2 separate regions of the Homo sapiens genome follow, and region 2 is reported to be linked to region 1. Evidence: microRNA targets listed by miRTarBase, many of them from high-throughput screens and not tested one by one. Region 1 holds a microRNA gene; the other region holds the end of a gene's coding sequence.

What was found. Region 1 holds the annotated microRNA hsa-miR-4292 (CCCCUGGGCCGGCCUUGG, at 3,273-3,290, opposite strand). A microRNA usually pairs through its seed, bases 2 to 8, with sites in the 3' UTR of a target mRNA and lowers its output. Matches are read on the target gene's strand: a 7mer-m8 pairs with bases 2 to 8, a 7mer-A1 pairs with bases 2 to 7 and ends in A, and an 8mer does both.
Region 2: miRTarBase lists KLHL36 as a target of hsa-miR-4292. Seed matches in the 3' UTR shown: 7mer-m8 at 935-941 and 7mer-A1 at 3,644-3,650.

What each region holds. Positions count from the first base shown.
Region 1 is chr9:136,829,110-136,834,285 of GRCh38, reverse strand. MIR4292 (microRNA 4292) reads right to left here and starts at 3,329; the gene lies at 3,263-3,329. RABL6 (RAB, member RAS oncogene family like 6) reads right to left here. Exons shown (of 15, transcript NM_024718.5): 5 at 4,802-4,893; 6 at 2,425-2,565; 7 at 1,916-2,021.
Region 2 is chr16:84,661,239-84,666,238 of GRCh38, forward strand. KLHL36 (kelch like family member 36) reads left to right here. Exons shown (of 5, transcript NM_024731.4): 5 at 340-5,000. The coding sequence ends at 895. Among named protein-coding and RNA genes, the nearest start is that of KLHL36, 15 kb to the left of the region's middle. RefSeq lists an enhancer at 2,367-2,586 and a silencer at 2,677-2,726.

The DNA.
Region 1 (5,176 bases):
AAAACCTTCTGTGAGTTTAACATGCGGTATTACATTAGGTACTACGGTCAGGTTAAAAAAACAACTGATTTTTTTAGAGATGTGTTTGAAATATTTTTAGGTGACATAAAGAAGGCCTGAAATTTGCTTCCAGGCAATCCAGGGGCAAGACAAAGAGGAAACAGGGGTCCCGCTGCTGAGACAGGCGAGGACATCAGATCTGCTTGAACACATCCATAGCAAAAGGATAGTCACACACAGCTCAGCCCTACGCTTCCAGCTCAAGACTCTGTCCAGGGTCCCGTTCTCTCCCTGGGAGGCTTTGGAAGGGTTTGGAGGGCAAACCATTAGGGAATGGAGCAGCTGAGCAGTGGGGAGCTCTCTAAGGAGTAATCAACCCAGTGATGAGGGGACGGCTCTGCAGGAAGGAGGGGCCTCCCCAGCAGTGCCGGCACAGGACAAGTCTGACTGCCGCCTTCCTTCCAACCCAAACGTCCCCAGCAGCAGTCCCAGCCTGCAGGCATCCTCACTTCTTCTGACACCAGGACGACAGCACAGCCCCTTTCCTGGGCAAGCCTGACATCCTTCTGGAGAAAGACCAAGGCTGCTGCAGCTGCAGCTGGGCCCCAGGTCCCCCAGACCCAGTCGGGGCAGCCCAGGGCGAGGAGGTTCAGGTCCCCCAGACCCAGCTGGGGCAGCCCAGGGCGAGGAGGTTCAGGTCCCCAGACCCAGCTGGGGCAGCCCAGGGTGAGGAGATTCAGGTCCCCCAGACCCAGTCGGGGCAGCCCAGGGCGAGGAGGTTCAGGTCCCCCAGACCCAGGCGGGGCAGCCCAGGGCGAGGAGGTACAGGTCCCCCAGACCCAGCTGGGGCAGCCCAGGGCGAGGAGGTTCAGGTCCCCCAGACCCAGGCGGGGCAGCCCAGGCAAGGAGGTTCAGGTCCCCCAGACCCAGGCGGGGCAGCCCAGGGCGAGGAGGTTCAGGTCCCCCAGATCCAGCTGGGGCAGCCCAGGGCGAGGAGGTTCAGGTCCCCCAGACCCAGCTGGGGCAGCCCAGGGCGAGGAGGTTCAGGTCCCCCAGACCCAGCTGGGGCAGCCCAGGGCGAGGAGGTTCAGGTCCCCAGACCCAGGTGGGGCAGCCCAGGGCGAGGAGGTTCAGGTCCCCAGACCCAGGCGGGGCAGCCCAGGGCGAGGAGGTTCAGGTCCCCAGACCCAGGCGGGGCAGCCCAGGGCGAGGAGGTTCAGGTCCCCAGACCCAGCTGGGGCAGCCCAGGGCGAGGAGGTTCAGGTCCCCCAGACCCAGTCAGGGCAGCCCAGGGCGAGGAGGTTCAGGTCCCCCAGACCCAATCAGGGCAGCCCAGGGCGAGGAGGTTCAAGCCTCATCATTTGCTGGGCTACTTTGCAGCCACAGCTGGCCTGGCCCTTGTTTCTACAAAGGAAAGTGAGTTTAGTCCGTAGGCCAAAGTTGGTTCCTTGGTTTTGACACAAGCACCAGGGAAATGTGAGATGTGAACAGCGAGTACCTCGGTGACTCACGCCTGGCATCCCAGCACTTTGGGAGACAGGTGGGAGGATTGCCTGAGCCCCGGAGTTTGAGGCCGCAGTGAGCCATGATTGCGCCACTGCACTCCAGCCTGGGCCACACAGCAAGACCTTATCTCAACAAACAAAAACAACCAAAAACACTGGGGGAAACTGAGCAAGGGGTCCCCGCAGAGGTGGAGGGGCTCCTGGGACTGGGTCTAGCCCTCAGGACCCTGTACCCTCTGCCACCCAGAGCAGGCAGGTGCAGTAGAACGCTGGGCCCTTGCCAGCAGCCAATCTCCGAGCAGGTCCACAGCTTTCTCAGGGGTTAGGAGGGAGACCCGTTGCTACACAGGAGACACCTGGAAGGAGGTGAGAGACCAGCAGCCACTCCACCCCACGTGGTGAGTGCTTACCTGAAGCTGCAAAAATGGGATATTGAAGAACTTATGAAGGTACTTTAGGCCGAAGCTGTTCTTCATGGAAGACTCAGCATAGCGGAAGTAGGAGGAACCTGGAGGTCTGCTTTCAGAAAGGAAAAAAGATGCAAGAGAAAGACCCTTGCCCTGGTGCCAAGGATCACCCCTGGGCCCACAGCTGTGGGTCCGCACTGCCCTCCCTCCTCCTGCAGGCTCCTGAGGCCACAGGACCCTGCTGAGCCCTGCTAAGCAGCTAAGCCGAGTGCCCTTCTGCAGGTGACCCCACAGTGCCAGCACTTCACCCTGGCACACAGTTCCCCAGCACACAGTTCCCGGCCCTGCCATCGGGGAGACCCAGGCTTCAGTGAGCCCCACTCAGCGGCGAGACCCACATCCGCCGGGCCCCATGCTAACGTTAACCCCTCCCTGGGCCTCTGCCTCAGCACCCTCCCCCGCACACCGGAGCACCGGGCAGGGTCCCTCGGGAGCAGGGCCACCGCACCCACCTGTCCAGGTTGTCGATGAAGTCACGCACGTCGTCCGGCAGGATGACTCGGTGCTCGCCCATGTCCCGGTAGTTTCCCAGCACGCACACTGGCACGTGGGTGGGCACTTTTGGAAGCTCCCGGAGAATGTAATTGAAGGTCCTCGGAGAACAGGTGAGGACCTGGCTTAGTTTCAGCCCTGCGACGCCCTGTCCCTCCCTGGAAAGGTGCTGTGCGCCCAGGCCCGAGGATGGTGGCTGCTTCTCATTTCCAACATCCAACCCAGCAGAAGCATGCCTCGTGCATGCAGAGCTAGAGGGAAGTGCCTCGAGGGCCTTCGCACCCCTCAGCCTGCAGCCCCCGCCCGTCCCTCTCCCTGACGGCAGGTACTTGACCGCACCCCACACTGGAACGCCCCTGCCTGTCCCTGCCTTCCCTCAGAGCACCCCATGTCCGCATCCCTACAAAACCACCTCTGGCTTCATCTGTGTCCACCCTCATTCCGCACTGTCCTCTGTGCCCCTTGGTGTCGACCCTGTGGCTGGTCCTCCAGGCTCCCTGCCCACCGGGGCAGCCGAGGACACCCTGGGGTGCCTCTGCGGCTGCCGGTGAAGCGGGCTGTTTGGAGAGCCTTGTCTTAAGCAGACATCTCCTGGCACGGACGGCAAGTCTCCAGAGTCTGCCTGGCGTGGAACTGCCAGTTTCCCAGCTGCGTGGTTTTCCAAATGGCTTGTGAAGAAATAACCAGCGCTTCAAGTGACAAAACTTCCCCACGACTGAAAGCCAACATAAGGGAGTAAAAAATGCAACATCCTGTTTCTAACTTCATTTTCTTTCATTTACACGCAGTCATTTAAACGGGCCCCTCACCAAGGCCGGCCCAGGGGCACCTCTGGCCTCCTAAGCAGGTGGCCTTCTGGTGTCTCCTGCCTCTCGTGGCTGTGAAGGGCCTGCGTGGTGCTTGAAGCCGCTGTCTGAGCCAGTGTTTTCCATCCTTCCTGCTGGGCACCAGGGGCTCCAGACAGAGCATTGCTACCATAGGCATCGCCTGCCCAGGCTGGTGCTGCCAACAGGGTCTCCGGGCCCACAGGTAAGCGCCTTTGCCGCGTCTTCTCAGGCTGGCTCAAGTCTCGCTGTCACTCCCGCCCACTCCTCGCACGGCAGCCCAGGCGGCTGCAGCTCCCTCCAGGCCGTTCCTGTGGCAGCAGTGGGAGGTGCCGTGGAGGCCACACTGTGTCCACACTCAACTTCGCTTGGGAAAAGCCACTTCCCACCCACCAGGCTGGCCTGCTGCCTAGACAGGAGAGGCCGGAGGGAGAGGAGCACCACTGCTCGCCCAGGTGAGGCCAGCGTGTGCGCCCGAGCTGAACTCGTGCCCTGGGGTGGGGCCGCCAGCCCCGTGTGTGGTTCTCCTGCCATCCGTGTGCCACACCCCCACCGAGGGCTCTCCTGAGGGTGCCTGCGGTCAGTCCTTGGTGGTGGTGCTGAAGGCTGGGAGGGCAGGCATGGTTCCCAGCATTGGCAAAGGTTGGCAGAGGCCCAGAGCATGGCTGGTCAGGTGCTTCAAGCCGCCCTCAGGCCTGGGCTGCTGATGCGTGCTGAGTGTGCGGCCCCGTGACAGGCGGTACGCTTAACCCTGGTGTGGGGGTCTTCCCAAGTAAGAGAAGCTGCTGACTAGGCCCCCAGGCCAGACCCACTGCTGGGAAGAGCAGATGCCTGGACGTGTCGGGCATGCTGCTCCTGGTGCTCCGGGCACTGGCTGTGGCTAGGAGGGGCCCTGCACCAGGACACTGGTCTTCACGCGGCCCTCGTTCTTCTAGGAGCCTTGTGCCAAGTGTGCGTCCGCAGCACCCCCCCGCTGGGGCTCCGGTGCGTCCTGGGGGACACTGCACTCCTGAGGAGCTGAGTGGATCCCATGCGACTCCACAGTGGACTCTGGGGGCTTGCGCCTGGTCCCCCAGAGATCGTCCTGTGTGCCACTGCCCTTAGCTGATTTCGCTGTCATCTTCTTGCTAGAATGAATCTTGGCTGTGGGTCCTCCTAGGTCATGAAGACGGAGGTCGCGGGGAGCCCCCAGCACAAGCAGCCACTTGCTTCCGCCAAGTCTCAGATGGGTTTTCAGGAAGAACAGTGGGGCTATGGAAGGTGCGTGCCTTGCCCCAGATGCCTTTTGCAGCCGGCCCACGCCATCCCGCCCCATAGGCACAGGCATAGTCGTTGCCCAGCCCGACATCCAGGCCAGTGCCCCTTGTGGCTGAGCTGCCACAGCTGCCCAGCAAGAGTCCCTCGGTCCTGCAGAACGATGCTGCTCTAACCATTATCTGCTGCACAAAGAGGGCGCCCAAGGGGCTAGGGGGGTGAGAGTCACAGGCAGCTGCCCCCGCCAGCTCCCTCTTACCACTGCTTGGTAATGTCGAACATCATGACCACCCCGTTGCAGTTCTTGTACACGTCCAGGAACTCAGCATCCAGGGCCATTTCAGACTCCGCCTGGGGACAGGAGGGAACAGGTGTGAGACTGGCCCAGGCTGGGCCCCACCCGTGTGGCCCACAGTTTTAGAAAAGGCTGGATAGTCTTCTAATCTGAAAAGATAACAGCCATTTCCATTTGGAAACGATATGCTGAAGAGATGGGATAGCTAAACATAGGTTTGCCCCAAAGGGTCTGACGGTCAACACCAGCCTCGCTGATGGCTCCCTGAACAAGCCTCCTACCCAGGACCTCCCACTGATCACAGCAGTGTCCGCCCCAGGCCTCACGGATAACCAAACC
Region 2 (5,000 bases), not on the chromosome of region 1:
GCCTGCTAGCTCATTGTTCTAGTCGTTTCCAGCCATTGTGAAAAGGGTGATGGTCCTGTGATTATTCCCATTTCCCAGATGGGGCAAGGGAGACTCAGAGAGAGTGAAGCTGGGTTCTGGCCCAGGCGGCCTGACTGCAAAGCTGTCCACTTCCCCGCCCTGCCCTGCCATTTCTTTGCTAATGACGGCTACTGTCTATAGAGTGTTCATGGGGTGCCCACTCCCTATATTCTTAAATCCTCATGGCCCTCTAAGACGGCAGGCTGTTCCCCGGCTCGGAGGGGGTAAGCCTGGCACAGCCCTGAGCTCTCCCTCTGTCTCTGCCCGTCGACCCTGCAGGTTCACGTACGGCCACGCGGGCACCATCTACAAAGACTTCGTGTACATCTCGGGGGGCCACGACTACCAAATTGGCCCCTACCGCAAGAACCTGCTATGCTACGACCACCGGACAGACGTGTGGGAGGAGCGGCGGCCCATGACCACGGCGCGCGGCTGGCACAGCATGTGCAGCCTGGGTGACAGCATCTACTCCATCGGGGGCAGCGATGACAACATCGAGTCCATGGAGCGCTTCGACGTGCTGGGCGTGGAGGCCTACAGCCCGCAGTGCAACCAGTGGACCCGCGTGGCGCCGCTGCTGCACGCCAACAGCGAGTCGGGCGTGGCAGTGTGGGAGGGCCGCATCTACATCCTGGGCGGCTACAGCTGGGAGAACACTGCCTTCTCCAAGACCGTGCAGGTGTACGACCGCGAGGCCGACAAGTGGAGCAGGGGCGTCGACCTGCCCAAGGCCATCGCTGGCGGGTCCGCCTGTGTCTGCGCCCTGGAGCCACGGCCAGAGGACAAGAAGAAGAAAGGCAAAGGCAAGAGGCACCAGGACCGGGGCCAGTGACCCTAGCTGCGCCTCTTGGGACCATCCTCACCGTCACCTCCCAGGGCTCTGTAGACCAGCAGCAACTTCTTAGTATTCCGGAAACATTATGTACAACTTAGCAGCTTTTTTTACTTTTATGATTCTTGGTATTTCTATGATATCACAGTAACCAATTAAATACTATCTGTAACTTTACATATCTTGCTTGAATAACTAACCCTGGGCCCAGGCAGTGAGCAACCCCTTGTATCTTCACAGGTCTTTGCCCCGTGTTATGATTCCTCATGGGTCCTTGCTGACTGTCCCCCTGAGAGTAGCTGGCACGTGGGTAACACAGAAATTTCTGTAGTGAAGCTTGGGCCTCAAAGGGTTCTCTTAGGCCACCTAGTCCAAGCCTCCCCAAACCTGGCTGAACTTTTAAGAATACAGATGCGTGAGCCCCGCTCAGAATTATGGAATCCAAAACCACCAGGAACGGGGAGGAGGTGGTGCCCAGAAGCTGTATTTTAACTAGTTCTTGGAATTCTGGGTATTAGTCACATCTGGGAATCACTGGCAAGGTCCAGTGTGTTTGTTTTATAAATGAGTGCACAGAGACCACCCATGAGGGTGAGTGAGTGAGTGACCAGGGGCCACGCAGCTCGCTAGACTGTCAGATGAGACATGATGACTTCCCGCTGGGGAGCTGTTCTCCGTATCAGGTGAACGCTGTTTCTGAATAATTCCGTCTTTCCTCATTGGAAACCTTCTTGAATTCTAAAACGTTACAGGTAACCAAAAACGAAAAAAGGTATGAAGCTCTTTATACATATTTTTTTGTAATTTGTGCATTTTTTTCCTTTTTTTTTTTTCTGAACCCACTGTCTTTTATATTACTGATGTACTGAGCTCCCAAATCTGTTTATTTCTCAGGAAAGAAAAAGTGAGTGCTATGGAATTTGCCATCGTTCTCTGTGACTCTATCTTGAGGCGCTGTTGAAAGTTCCTGCACAGAGGAGCACATGTGGATCCCTGAGAAGGCAGTGGAGGGCTCCCTAACTCCCACGCCAGGTCCTGCCCCAGTTTTCTGCTTCTAAGTAGTTTCGTGCTGCTGGGCAAATTCTCGAACAAGTCCGTGTGTTCCCTCATCCACCCCGCTTAGCCACAGGATTAGATGGAATACCCTCCAGGCTCCTCCCGGGTGATAGGGCCATTCAGCCTCTGAGCTGTTCGTACCCGGATGGCATCCCCTTCAGGATGTGGAGCTGGCCTGCACTGACTCCTGCAAACAGTTCCTAAAGCAGGTGTCAGGGTCGCTTGCCCTTTAAGAGGGCTCTTAGCTGCCCGAGTGGATGAGAAACGTGCAGAACTATGGGAGGATAGGAGTGTGATGGGTTTTAAGCATGAGCCAAGGAAGGCATGAATGAGCTGTACCTCACCCAGCATCCGATGGCAGAGATCAGTAAACTTCAAGATGTGCTTCATCTTCAATCCTAGTCTAACACCAGTCTTCCTGCAGACAGTTCCGAGAGCAGGTCTCGATGTCACTTGCCCTTTAAGAGGGCTCTCAGCTGCTCGAGTGGATGAGGATCAATGTGTTAAGATTGATATTAGACTAGGAAAAAAATCTTAGTTAACTTTAATTTCCATTTCTTCTGCTTCTTTGCTGCCCCTCCTTTCCCTTCCCTTCAGGGTTTACTGTGGTTCTCACTGGTCTGTTTATGTAGCCATCCAGAAGAGATGAGAGCATTTTGGGGACTGAAAGCTTCAATAGCCAACTTACTGCCCTCTGTGGTTAGTGAGGAGGGCAGTCTGCATGTTCAGCTAGCTAGTTATTTGCATGTGAAGTCCCTGGAGGCTTACAAACTGTTGAGAGGTTCTGCGAGGCATACAAACAAACAGACCAAAAGGCTGGAAACTCTGCTTGGAGCTCTGCAGCATTCCGGTGTATGAAAGGTTCCGAGAAGTCTCAACCCAGCATTTCCAAACTTCTTTGAGCCTAAAAGTCGTTTGTCTCATACCTAGTCCCAGACCCCCACAAAACATGTTTTGCAGAACTTCTGCCAACTTTGGGATAGCTTACCCCCTTCCTATTCGGGAAAGGTTTTATTGCTTGTAGACCCCTCAGAAGGCAGGGTAGGGTGTACGTGGGCTGTTCTCCCCATCTCAGCCTGGGTCATGAACAAACGGGCAGTTGTTTGGCCTGAATCTCGGGGCAAGTTGGGGAGAGCACATAGAAAGACTCTGTGAGTGATTTGGGGAGTGGGATAGCTTTGACCTTGGAGAGAGGAGAGCCATTGGTTTTCAGCCTAAGCCAGCTCTTTTATGTTTTGCTTCTGGGACTTGTCCCTGGAAATGTGTGAGCTTCTGGCCTCTATTCTGATTTTCTTGTGCCTCATGAGTTACATACGACGTCCTGCGCTTCATATTTTGTGGTGTCTCTCCTGATACTATGAAGGTGGTTTGTAATTGACATGGCTTTGACCCTAATATTACTAAGGTTGGGACCACCCTTTTAAAGGGAGGATAAACAAGTTTCATCTTGTGGGTCAACTTCTAATATTTGATGGTGGCTACACTGTGACAAGAAAGGTTTTTGAGCTTGTTGGGGTCAGTGGATGGGCACAAGGGCACCCAGTGGTGGTGCCCGGGCCAGGTTTTTGTTACTTGTCTTTTTAAGTTGAAAATTCACCCTACTGTGCATGAAAATGGAACTGAAAATGGAAGAGACCATGCCTGGGCAACATGGCAAAACCCCATCTCTACAAAAAAATTACAAAAGATTAGCCAGGGATGGTGGGGCATGCAGTAGTCCCAGCTGCTTAGGAGGCTGAGGTGGGAGAATCACCTGAGCCTGGGAGGTTGAGGCTGCAGTGAGCTATGACCACACCACTGCACTCTAACCTGGGTGACGGAGTGAGACCCTGTCTCAAAAGAATAAAATGTTTTTTAACTCAGATGGGCAGAGTTTGGGCTGTGCTTATGCAGTGGCCATTTGAACCGCACAGTCACGAATGTGGGGTTTTAAACTAGAGTGATGAAGGCACAGGTGCTTGCAGGCTGCCATTTTGAGAGGGAAACAGCCACACATGTCATCATGTTAAACTTTCAGTGTTTCAAGCTATTCTGCTTGAATTTTGAAGACACCTGGATCTTTTTTTTTTTTTAACATTTCAAAATAAGCATGGCAGGCTTCTATTGAGGTTTGGACTTCTCTCATTTCTAAAGAATTAGAGTTGTAACTTCATATTAGTTGTAAGTTTGGGGTTTGGTCCTCACCCAAGTTGGAAAGCTGTTTGCTTAAGACATAGATGTATTATAATAATAGAAGGGAGGGAGTAGAAAGCTGATGAACCCTTGTTACTTATAGCAAACTTCCTGCTGTTTTAAATGCACAGAGATTATTTTATCAACTGTGGTTAGCACGCAATTGGTATTTTTATTGTTCTGCCATTTTATTGAGGCTATCAAGTGGGACTTCAGACCTGGCTCTGAGCAGGACCACACGTGTGTATTTATATTGAGTGCCCTCACTCATGATAAGGTGACTTCATGGAGACCCAGAAACTCACCCTAAGGGGTGTTCACCTTTGAGGTGGGCATCCAGATGCTGAGGGGAAGTGGGGTCCATCCTCTGAGGTCCAGGGGCCTACTTTGTGAGCTCAGTTGTGTTCACCTGTGGTTCAGTGTACCTCGGCCCCTAAGCCAAGTGATCGTTCAGTGACTTGCAGCAATGTGGGAAGTGAGGGGACCCCTGCCACACCCCCCACCACCCCCTGTAGAGTCACTGACCTTCATCCTTCACCCTGGTCCTCCATGGTGCAGCAGCATCTCATGGGCCTTGTGGCTGTCAGAGCCCGTGGTTGGAACCCCGTCCACTGGTCCCAAACCTGGAGGGGCAGCTGCAGATGAGGTTTAGACCTCCTGGTGTCTCCGTGGATTCTGAGTGCCCAGGAGGGGAGGGGAGGGGGTGGCATCCTGGCCTCTAGGATAAATGCCTGGAGTATAGGGCAGCGCCACGGGCACTTGGAGACCCTGTCCTGCGCATCTGCCAAGCCTGGCAGTTTTTAGAGTTTTTTGAAATGTTTTGATACTTTTTGATACAATTTGCTAATAACTGTTTTGTAGAATGCCTGCCGGGGTT